3 linked regions of the Homo sapiens genome follow. The protein of the gene in region 2 interacts with the protein of the main gene of each other region in a pairwise test. Each region holds a gene or a part of one and is shown on either strand. Other genes may lie near its edges. The genes, in order: AMIGO1, SLC38A1 and SLC13A4.

The links.
Region 1: the proteins of SLC38A1 (region 2) and AMIGO1 interact in binary tests that used the Homo sapiens proteins (3 or more experiments, as listed by UniProt).
Region 3: the proteins of SLC38A1 (region 2) and SLC13A4 interact in binary tests that used the Homo sapiens proteins (3 or more experiments, as listed by UniProt).

The regions. Positions count from the first base shown.
Region 1 is NC_000001.11:109,507,535-109,511,284, forward strand, and holds the start of AMIGO1 (amphoterin-induced protein 1 precursor), read right to left. Parts: upstream 2,194-3,750; 5' UTR 1,886-2,193; intron 1,466-1,885; 5' UTR 1,379-1,465; coding exon 1-1,378. UniProt on the Homo sapiens protein: Promotes growth and fasciculation of neurites from cultured hippocampal neurons. May be involved in fasciculation as well as myelination of developing neural axons. May have a role in regeneration as well as neural plasticity in the adult nervous system.
Region 2 is NC_000012.12:46,185,330-46,189,079, forward strand, and holds part of SLC38A1 (sodium-coupled neutral amino acid symporter 1), read right to left. Parts: intron 3,743-3,750; coding exon 3,641-3,742; 3' UTR 1-3,640. UniProt on the Homo sapiens protein: Symporter that cotransports short-chain neutral amino acids and sodium ions from the extraccellular to the intracellular side of the cell membrane. The transport is elctrogenic, pH dependent and driven by the Na(+) electrochemical gradient.
Region 3 is NC_000007.14:135,686,550-135,690,299, reverse strand, and holds part of SLC13A4 (solute carrier family 13 member 4), read left to right. Parts: intron 1-1,271; exon of another isoform or gene 1,272-1,396; intron 1,397-2,977; exon of another isoform or gene 2,978-3,289; intron 3,290-3,750. UniProt on the Homo sapiens protein: Sodium:sulfate symporter that mediates sulfate reabsorption in the high endothelial venules (HEV).

The sequences.
Region 1 (3,750 bases), on a different chromosome or scaffold from region 2:
CTGGCTTGAGCTTGCCGTTTTGACCCTGCCCAGGTCCAGCAGGTTCCAGGAAAGCCACCCGCCGGTCAAAACCATCATCTTTGTCCCCACCAGCCATAGGATCATGGTTGGGTGTGGTACTAAGCATGGAAGAGCTGAGGCTGTCTCCTTGATGGCTGGAAGGCTTCTCTACACCCCGGCACCAGCAGCGGCAAGGGGTGAGGTATAGGTATATGAGGACCAGGACCACACTAAGGATACAGCCCACTAGGGTGGTATAGGCTGTGTTGAGGGTGTCATGGTGTCCGTGCAAGGTGAAATTGTGCACTTTCAATTCCACAGACAGTGTCTCATTGAAAGTCTCTCCCATGGCATAGCAGGTATACACACCACCGTCCTCGACCTGCACCTGCTGGAAAAGAAGACTGCCATCCTTAGACACACTCACTGTGCCATTGGTCACCTCATCTAGCACCCGTTCATTACTTGGTGTCACCCACACCTTGGTCATCCCTTGCTGCTTGGTGTCACACTTGATGATCAAGGTGTCACCCAGGTGGGCCTCCCAGGCACGCTCCTTGTACTCGCCACAGTTGAGGAAACTCAGGTTGAAGACATTGTGCAGCTTCTTGGAGTTCATGCAGTACAGATCCTCTTGAAAGTCCATCACGGAGCTCAGCTGCCGATACTGCCAGTGTGAAAACAGCTGGTAGAGCTCACAGTCGCAGTTCAGGGGGTTGTTATGTAGGTACAGCCCATTCTTGATCCAGGCCGGCAGCTTCTGCAGGTCAGGCAATGGCAAGTTCTTCAGCTTGTTAGAAGAGAGATCCAGGAGCGTTAGTTTGGGTAGCTTGGCTCCTTCCTTGACCAGTTCCAGAGGGAAGCGAGAGATCTGGTTCTGGCTCAAGTAGAGTTTCTGCAGCTGGGCCATGTCATCGAAGGCGCACCGGTCCACCGCCATGATGTGGTTATTGTAGAGCAGCAGCACCTCCAGTACTTGCAGGTCACTGAACAGGAACTCATCCAGTGTACGCAGCTGGTTGGAGGAGAGGTCCAGGTAGCGCAGGTTGGGTACCGGGGAAAAGGCCTCAGAGGAGATGAAGTTCAGGTGGTTGTGGCTCAGCAGCAGGGAGTGCAGTTGGGTCAGGCGCGTGGGGGTCCACTCGGCCCGCAGGCGGCTCAGGTTGTTGTGACTGAGGTCCAGTAGTGCTGTGTAACTGGGCAAGGAATGGGGCACATTGGGCAGCTGCTGCTTGGAGCAGCTGAGGATGTTGCTGGCGCACAAGCAGGCGGCAGGACAGCTAACCACGGCTCGGCCAGCTCTGGCCACCTCAAAAAGCAGCAGGGACAAGGACGGCAGCAGGAGCCAGAGGCCTCTCGGGTCACGGTGGGGGTGCATAGTGTCACTGGAGTGGGCGAGGAAGGCCACAAGGAAGATCTGGGAGGAGGTCACCCGGGCATGTTCTGGTGGGGTACGGAAGGGTCACTTGAGAGAAAGAGGATGGGTTTGTGGTCACCAAGGACTCCAGAGGGAAGGACACCCTCTCCCACTTCCCCTCCCACCCTTACCTCCACCCCCTTTGGGCTAGGAGAGAGAGATGCTGGGTAGTTTCCAGGCACTGTGCAGGCAGTGGGCTGTAAATATCGGCCGAAGAGGAGGTGGCCCGAGGGCCTACTGGGCTGGGGTCACAGGGGTGCAGGCTGCAGGTATGCACAGGATGGCAGGGACTGCTGGGAGTCACAGGGATGGCACGGGCAGGGTTTGGAGGTGGGGTCGGTGTGCCTTTTGGGAGGAGCTGAGGGAAGGTCAACAGGGCACCGGGCTGGGTAGGACGCGTCCGGTCGGGGTTGAGGGTCCCCGGGGCCTGTAGGGGCGGGCTCCCCCCGGGGCCTCCGGTCACTGCACCTGCTCGGCGAGGACGTGTCTCAGCCCATGGCCGGTCTGGGAGCTCCGTCGCGGCCTCTCCCGGCGGCGCCTCACCGGCCGGCCTGTCACTGCGCCCACCTTACGCAGGGGCCCGCGCCCGGCACCGTCGCCTCCCGGGGACTTGCGGGGCCCCGCTCCGCTCACCCTGCCACCGCCTCGACCGCTGAGCCCGCCGGAGCCCACCGACCGCGGTCGCTGCCTCCAGGTCCGCAGGCCTGGCGCGGATCGGTGCGGGGAGCCGGAGGCGCAGCGATCCCAGCGGAGGGAGCGGCGTGGGGGCAGCGAGCACCGCGCGCGCGCCCGTCGCCGCCGCCGGAGCCTCGGGGCGCGTGCGCGCGGCGGGGGCGGGGCGCACGTGCGTGTGTTTGTGTCGGAGCCGGCCGGGCGGACGCGCGCGGGGTCGTTCCCTCAACCAGCGAGCTCCGGACGCTGAGCTAAAGACGAAAATTGGCAGGAAGAGCGGCACTGGCCCCTTAGGCTCCGCTATAACTTCCTCCATCCCCCATTCCCCCATCTCCCAGCACCCTTCTCGCTACACAGACCGGCTCTCAGGAAAAGTCTAACTAAAGTGAATTCGCTGCACCTACTCGGGCAAGAGGCGTCACATGTCTTTTAATTTCGCAAATTGAAGAAATCTGGCTCAGCTCCCGCCTGCCAATGTTGGCGGGAAATTCATTAGTCACATTCTGAGGTTCCCCCTCCCTTCTCTCTGTGGCTGTGGGGTCTCAAAAATTGGGGGAGGGGTTCCCCCCACCCCACCCCCGTCTTGATGCTACTAGTTCATGACCCTTGAGGTACCACTGAAGGGCACAGCTCCTTAGCCTGCAAGCCAGCTGCGCAGGAGTGAGGGGAAAGGGGGTGTTTGGTGAGCCCAGGCCCCAGAACACCCCTTTACAGACACCTCATGCACCTCTCCCCACTCCACCTGCTACACACACACACACACACACACACACACACACACACACACACACGGACTGCATACAAGCCAGGGACAATTTCCATTCCTGGAAACTCCGAAACCCTTCCCAGCCCGGAGGAAGTCATTCAGCCCTTAGGTCTGGCCACTTGCCTTCTTCCTAAACCAGTGCCAGCTCCCCACTCCCCTTATGGAGCAATTGCAACATAGTTTCTCTGTTACCTAATCCTCAAGATGAAGGCCAGTGGTGGAGGTGGAGGGGTTTCTTCTTTAGGGTGGCCCCTGAAACAACAAGAAGCTGTTACTAGTGTATGTTGTTTGGGTTTGGGGGTGAGGAAAGAGAGAGATGCAGGAAGAGCCTAGACCTTATCATTCAAGATGTTAGCTGTTCTTGAGATGGTGGACCATAAGAAATTACCTTTTTATTTGTTCCAGTCTCTTATAACAGCAAGATCAAGACTGAAATTAATGTCTCAGTAGATTAGCTTGCTAAGAGTTTTAAAAAGAATTTATATCTGTCACATGTTTTACCATGAATTTTAGTGAATATATTATCTCTTCAAGGAGTATTAGCGTGTTAATCTTATGCATAGTGTGAAAAGGTCTTTCTGCAAGGTGCAGTGGCTCACACCTGTAATCCCAGCACTTTGGGAGGCTGCGGCAGGAGGATTGCTTGAACCCAGGAGTTCGAGAGCAGCCTGGGCAACATGGTGAGACTCTGTCTCTTAAAAAAAAAAAAGGCATGGTGGCACGCACCTGTGGTGCCCACTACTTGAGAGGCTGAGGTCGGAGGATCACTTGAGCCCTGGAGGTCAAGGCTGCAGTGAGCCATGTTTGTGTCACTGCATTCCAGCCTGGGTGACAGAGCAAGATCCTGTCTCAAAAAAAAAAAAAAAAAAGAAAGAAAGAAAGAAAGAAAGAAAGA
Region 2 (3,750 bases):
AATAGTCTTAGGTGCTCGCCGAAGCACTGAGGAATCTTACCACAACCCTGTGTCCACCACAAGCCCTATCACCATCACCCATCTGGGTGCTTCTTTTTCTCAACAGGGTCTGTAACTGTAAAAAAGGAAAGTGGGTGGAGAGGTTTTTTTTTCCCCCTTTTTTCTTGTTTTCTAACCTCCCAGCTTATTCCTGGAGAGTTAAAACACAGTTACTAGCACTAAAAACATTAAAAGTGCTGCGCGCTGGCCTCAATGACTGGTACATTGGAGAAGCTATGCAGCAGCATCCTTTTCTGTGGTGGGCAGGGCAGGAGATGAACCATAGGAGCCAAAAGTCAGACAAACAGAAGAAGGCACACCAAGCCTGAACCCTCCGGACAACAGCAGAGTTACCAGCTGAGGGATGTCCCTGGAGGTTTCTGACCCATGAGAGGCCCCCTCACCCTCCTTCACCCTCCTCCTACCACCAAGCTCTCCAGCAGTCATGGACTTATTCCTCCCCGTTTTTACTGGACACCATGTTTCAGGCCAATCTGGTCACCTGTAGTCTGGTGGCATCTCTACCCCTACTGTCCAGTAGGTGGGATGTGGCTGGGATGGACAGTCCAGATTCTACTAACAGGCAACTCTGAACAAACACCCTCCCTGGAAACAATATTATATTTGATGGTTAGATTCTTTAGCAAACCTATTACATTATTCGATGTCAGCTAACCTATTGGTTTGATCATCTTTTCCAGCTGCTCTAGGGGCCTAACCACCATGGATAACCTGGTCTCTAAAGGAAAATACATTCCAGGTTGCAAACAACCAACTGACAACCTTTTGGAATATGATCTCCTTATACACTGGGGCTGCCTGTGCCTAAACACAGTAGATTTCCCTCCTGTGCGTATTTCATCAGCCCCACTTCCAATAAGTAACATTAAGTAAATTAGGGATTGACAGTATTCTGTGTTACAATAACTAGAGAACAGTTCTAAGTCCAAAGTGTGGAACTGGCACTGTTCACTAGTATAGAGATCCTACCTACCAAAGGAAAACGTGCTGCTCCCCATGCCTAGGGTATAGTATTCTTTAATCTACTAATTTAGCAGAAAAACTTCCATAGCACTTGACTGTGCTGTTTAAATTCGACCTAACATCTGTGATACATGTATTTTTGGCTACCAATTAACTATTCTGAATAAGAATAAGAGCAGTATACTTTACAGCTAATCTCACACAAAGGATGTAACTAATCAGTGATATTTGACGAATTATGGTAGGGTCTATTATATTCAGTCAACAACAAATTTAGAGAAACATACAAAGGTTTTTAAAAATATGGGTGGTGTCACACAGATCAACAACACTGTGCCTCCTCTAAATAAATCTATTTTAAATAAATATTCCTTGTATTGACACATGAAACCCAGAGGCCCAAAAATATCACTACACATCCCAGTTAATGATAAGGTTCTAAATTGACTTTGTGAGGGTAAAATGAATTGCTATAAAGTAACAAGGAAAATAGAAAGTAGCATAATATAGCTTGCAAACTAAATTATGTATTTTTAAAGGTACAGTCATCCCACTACCTGGCTATTTCATTACTTGGTGCTCTAGACAAGCTCCCAAGAACTGACTGGATCTTGGCTTGTTCTGTTTCTGTCATTGCTAATATAATATGGAAAACATTGCTGAAAAGAACAGAGATGGCCATGGATATGGCTAGGTTAGGTATTCATATCCAAATATCTGAACTCTAACCTAATGTGGATATGATTCTGTAGCATTATATTAAAAGCTATGATGATGCAATGCAGGAAATAACCTTTCATTCTCCCCCCTAGAGGATCACGACAGGTGCTTCAATGCCTGCCTTATCTATGGGACAGTAGTGTGATTCTCAGTGAGAGTGAAGGCCTTTGGGGATTTGAGTCAGGAAGGGAACATGGCTAAGTGCCTGGAAACTCTGCCAACAGTCTGCGGTTAGATTCTACTTGTCTCTGGATAAGAAATCTGTGCTCAGTGAACTTATGTGTTTGGAAAATTTAACCAGAATATAGAGGAAGCATAAGTCCTGTTTCAAGAGACCAGCTCACGGAGCATGCACATTTCTCACCATAGGCAAGCTATGGACAATTCAATCACATGGGATGGCCCCACTTAGGGGAATGCAGTTCTGGGTTTCCTTGCTATCCCTATTCTTTTTCAGCTACAAACTCTCTTCTTTTTCAGTCTCTTCAGTTTCCTTGTGCTCCCTTTAGGAGAGGGACAAGGGTAAGAGTACCAGGCAACTCTGTCCTCCTGCATGGACAGTTGAGACGGGCAGTAATGGCACAGTCCTTGGTTGGGGAAGAGAAGAGGAGACAGCACAGACACTGAGACCCCCTTGTCTTCCTCATCTGGGGGAAGGAAGGTACTCAGTGATTCTGTCAGAAGCTCTTCACAAAGACTATCTCTGAGGGTTTTTTTTTTTTTTTTTTCACAAGACTAGATGGAGAATTAATGAAGAAGAAATAGAAATGAGGCTTATTTAAGGTACAAAATTCTTGTATTTGTAATAACCTAGATTTATAGATATAAAACAAGTCTTTTAAAGACTTCCCTAAAATACTCAATATAAAACAGGAGTTACTTATCCTAGATCATCCTTAGTTAGGTACACATGATTCTCTGTGCAACTAGCTGGTGGACATGAATAAAAGCTGCTGGGCCTATAATGTACTAAAACATTTTTCTCCCTTCAGCAAGACAGGTAGGGTTGAAGGCTAAATGCATCAGAGGAGTATTTTCTTAGGCATTTTGGACAATCTTTTTGCAGTAGGTTCCATAGGTTTTCCCCAGCGAAAGTTGACTCAGACCAGAGTAACTCTGACACAAGTTGCCAAGAGGGAAAAAATACTTCATTTGCTAGATTACCCAAATGTGTAGCTTCATTTAATTACCAAGGTAAGAATCATCCCCAACCACTTTTCAGCTGAGAACACTTGCCAGAGAATGTCTCTGGATGGGAATAGATGTGGTACCAGCTAGGCCACTGGACTACCCGAGTTCAGCTGCCAGGAAATCAGAGCCACCTCAAATATTGGGCATGCTCTGATTCAGCAGTGGCAGTGCCCTATAACTTTCAGATGATTATCTCCATGTGCTATGTTAACCAAAATAGGCAAATTATTTACGAAACCATTTTTTTCTGTAAAGCAAAATAAATATATACAATTCAAGATTCTTTTCTCTTCTAAAAAGGTACAGATAGTGTGAGCTGAACATCAGTAGGAAAATTATTTCAGAATCTGGATGTATAATAAATAAACATTATTGTATATCATGTTTTCAAAGTTCTAAGAGACCGGGAAGCCACAAAACATAGAGTTAGATGGGTAAAAAATGATTGTGAAAAGTACTGGGAAATATGATTGTATGAAATTTGAAAAAAAAATTTCACAATCCCTAAATTGATCTCAAATCTTGGAGGGACATGAAGCATTATAGAACCATGTCTCTGTTTTGCAACCAAAAAGTTATTCCATTTTAAGTATCCTGTACATTTCTGTTTGCTTCTGTAAACTTGCAAAAGAAGTGGTGAGAGATTGCTGATGTGTGGGGACTTGACTGAGCAGACAACAGGGATGTTTCTTTTTCTCGGCGGGTTTCAGTGGCCTTCGTCACTACTCGATGAGCAGGCCCAGTCATAGATGACCAAGGGAATGCTGACCAAGGAGAACAACACCCCCAGGCCCAAGAAAAGGGCAGCCTGGAGCA
Region 3 (3,750 bases), on a different chromosome or scaffold from region 2:
AAAACAATCTTAAGAATGAATTAGGTTAAGGTTCAGACTATTTCTCCCTCCATCTCATCTACATGCATTATCCCATGCTAAACTTGGTTCTCTTTTTTTTTTTTTTTTTTTTTTTTTTTGAGACAGAGTCTCACTCTGTCACCTAGGCTGGAGTGCAGTGGCGCCATCTCTGCTCACTGCAACCCCTGCCTCCCAGGTTCAAGCAATTCTCATGCCTCAGCCTCCCAAATAGCTGGGATCACAAGCACACGCCACCACACCCAGCTTAATTTTTGTATTTTTAGTAGAGATGGAGTTTCACCATGTTGGCCAGGCTGGTCTTGAACTCCTGGCCTCAAGTGATCCACCCACCTTGGCCTCCCAAAGTACTGGGATTACAGGCATGAGCCACTGTGCCCGGCTTGGTTCACTTTTCATGGCCCAAAATACTATCTGCATTATTAATAATAAGGTCACAGAATACTCCACTAAGGAGAACCTTAGAAAACAATGAGTCCTATCTCCTGCCCATGGTGAGATTCCCCTCCATGGCACTTCTGGCTTGGACACTTCCAGTGACAAGGTACTCCCTGGGCAGGGAACAAAGAATAATTGTTCCTTATTTTCAGCTCAGGTCTTCTGCATGTTGTCTGTCCACTGTTGGCTCTAGCTCTGTTCTCTGGGACCCTCTCCTAGATAATAATTATTAACATGAAAAAATCAAGTAGTAGTGACCCATACCATCTGGTCTCTCTCCTCAGGACTCACTACACTTGGCCTTATTCAAACATAGTCTATGGGGTGGTCAGTCTACTGCCAAGTAGAGTAGTTATATTACCCAAGCCCCATCTCTCACCTCTGATTCAAGCAGCACCCTGCATTTTTATGGAAGCTTTTATAAAGCATCCTTGGCACTCATGTCAACAATTATATTAAAACTGCAGTCAATTAGAACCCTTCATTCTTTTTAACTGTTCATCATTACTGGACCTTCACCCCATCCTATATATATGCCATCAATATTTCTCATTCCAAGTTCGGGATATTTATATTTATCTTTATTGAATTTCAGTTGTTAGTTTTGGCCTCTGACAAGATTGGCCTGGCAAGATTTTATTTTTTTTTTTAACCAAAATTGGGCTGGGCACAGTGGCTCATGTCTGTAATCCCAGCACTTTGGGAGGCCATGGCGGGAGGATTGCTTGAGTCCAGGAGTTTGAGACTAGCCTGGGCAACATAGTAAGATCCTATCTCTACAAAAACAAAAGTTAGCCCAGTGTGGTGGTGCGTACCTGTAGTCCCAGCTACTCAGGAGGTTGAAGTGAGAGGATCGCTTGAGCCCAGGAGTTCAAAGCTGCAGTGAGCCAAGATCCCACCATTGCACTCCAGCCTGGGAGACAGAGGGAGACCCTATCCCCTGCCACCAAAACAAAAAACAAGAACAAAAACAAAAAAAAAACAATAAAAACAAAATTGTGCACATATTAGAGATAGTACAGTTATTTCTGTAAAGCCTACTGCCTCTACTAATTTTAATAATAATTTAGGTAGCATATATGTGATTCCTACAGAGTTTGAAATAATTTCAGTTTTGACATTAGTGAAGAAAATCCATTGTAAAATGTTTTCATACCAAGAGTTTAAAGAATTAAGACTTCCTTTGATTGTGTTTTTGTCTAACTTTGAAGTCTAATTTATTTCAAATCATAGTATAAAATAGTTCTGCTGGAAAAATAATTGCCAATAAATTATTTCACTTTACTAGGCCGGGCATGGTGACTCACGCCTGTAATCCCAGCACTTAAGGAGGGTGAGGCAGGAGGATCACTTGAGGCCAGGAGTTTGAGGCTAGCCTGGCCAACATGGTGAAACGTTGTCTCTACTAAAAATACAAAAATTAGTTAGGCGTGGTGGCGGACACTTTTAATCCCAGCTACTTGGGAGGCTGAGGCAGGAGAATCACTTGAACCCAGGAGGAGGAGGTTGCAGTGAGCCGAGATCGTGCCACTGCATTCCAGCCTGGGTGACAAAAGCAAAACTCCAGGGACTGGGCACAGTGGATCATGCCTGTAATCCCAGCACTTGGGGAGGCCAAGGTGGGTGGATCACCTGAGATCAGGAGTTTGAGACCAGCCTGGCCAACATGGTGAAACCTCGTCTCTACTAAAAATACAAAAATTAGCCGGGTGTGGTGGCACGCGCCTGTAATCCCAGCTACTTGGGAGGCTGAGGCCAGAGAATTGCTTGAACCTGGGAGGCAGAGGTTGTGGTGAGCCGAGATCGCACCACTGCACTCCAGCCTGGGCGACAGAGTGAGACTTCCTCTCAAAAAAAAAAAAAAATTTAGCCGGGGATGGTGGCACATGCCTGTAATCCCAGCTACCCAAGAGGCTGAGGCATGAGAATCATTTGGACCCGGGAGGCAGAGGTTGCAGTGAGCTGAGATGGTGCCACTGCACTCCAGCTTGGGTGACAGAGCACAACTCTGTCTCAAAAAGAAAAAAAAAATTATTTCACTTTACTTACCAGTACTATTTGGATAACGTTAAGTAAAACTCCATCTCTTTATATAATGTACCATTTCCATTCAACTAACTGCTGTTCCTCCCCTGCCTCTGTCCAATGAGCAAGGTTTAATGTGTTACCAGAGGGAACAATTAAAGAGTTCCTGGAGGCCTTGGGGCTCTGAAACAAGCATTAATTGATGCAGTCTGCACATATTGGGTTTGTAAGCTCTCAGTGAGTTGAGAGGAAAAAAAGGAAGAAAAGTTCTACAAGGTGAAGTGGCTACAACAGAGAGAATTCTGAAGGCCTTTGGTCCTCAGTTGTCTATGAGCTTGCCAGGAGGTGGCCAGGGTACTGTAGAGATGAAATGAGCTTTTGATGAATTTGGAAGAGAGGAGAAAAAGTAACATGCTGGCAGTGTAGGGAAGGCGGTATTTAATAGTAAAACATGTGTAGCAGGACTTAAGAGCTTGAGGAATCATAAATGTCTCACCTTCCTTTCTGTCCCTGCTCTCCATATTGTCATTGCATTCGCAGTTTCTAGGGTACCATGGGAAAAGGCAGAGCCTGTCACCATAGAAGAGAGAGAGGAAGGGAGGCAGGATGCATATGGCAACCTGGAGTTTTTAATACAAAACTCAATGATACCTTTCATTTTTTAGGAGAGGGAGGTAGCCCTCCCTATTTGCAGGTGAACATCTTCCAACCAAATGAATCATTCCAAGTGGGAATATTTATTCATTTATTTTTTATTTTTTTGAGACAGAGTCTCACTCTGTCACCCAGGCTGGAGTGCAATGGCACAATCTCGGTTCACTGCAACCTCTGCCTCCCGGGTTCAAGCAATTCTCCTGCCTCTGCCTCCTGAATAGCTGGGATTACAGGCGCGTGCCACCACACCTAGCTAATTTTTGTATTTTTAGTAAAGGTGGGCTTTCACCACATTGGCCAGGCTGGTCTCAAACTCCTGACTTCAAGTGACCTACCTTCCTCAGCCTCCTAAAGTGCTGGTATTACAGGTGTGAGCTACCTCACCCAGCCAGAATGTTCATTTATTTAAGTGGATGTGTGTAACTGTTGCTAGTGGAATAAATTCAGGACGGTCAATATGCCTTCATATCTGTGTCTTCAAAAAGCACTGGCAGGCCAGGTGCGGTGGCTCACACCTATAATCCCAGCACTTTGGGAGACCAACGTGGGAGAATCGCTTAAGCCCAGGTCTGTTTGAGACAGGCCTGGGCAACATGGAAAGACTCTGTCTCTACA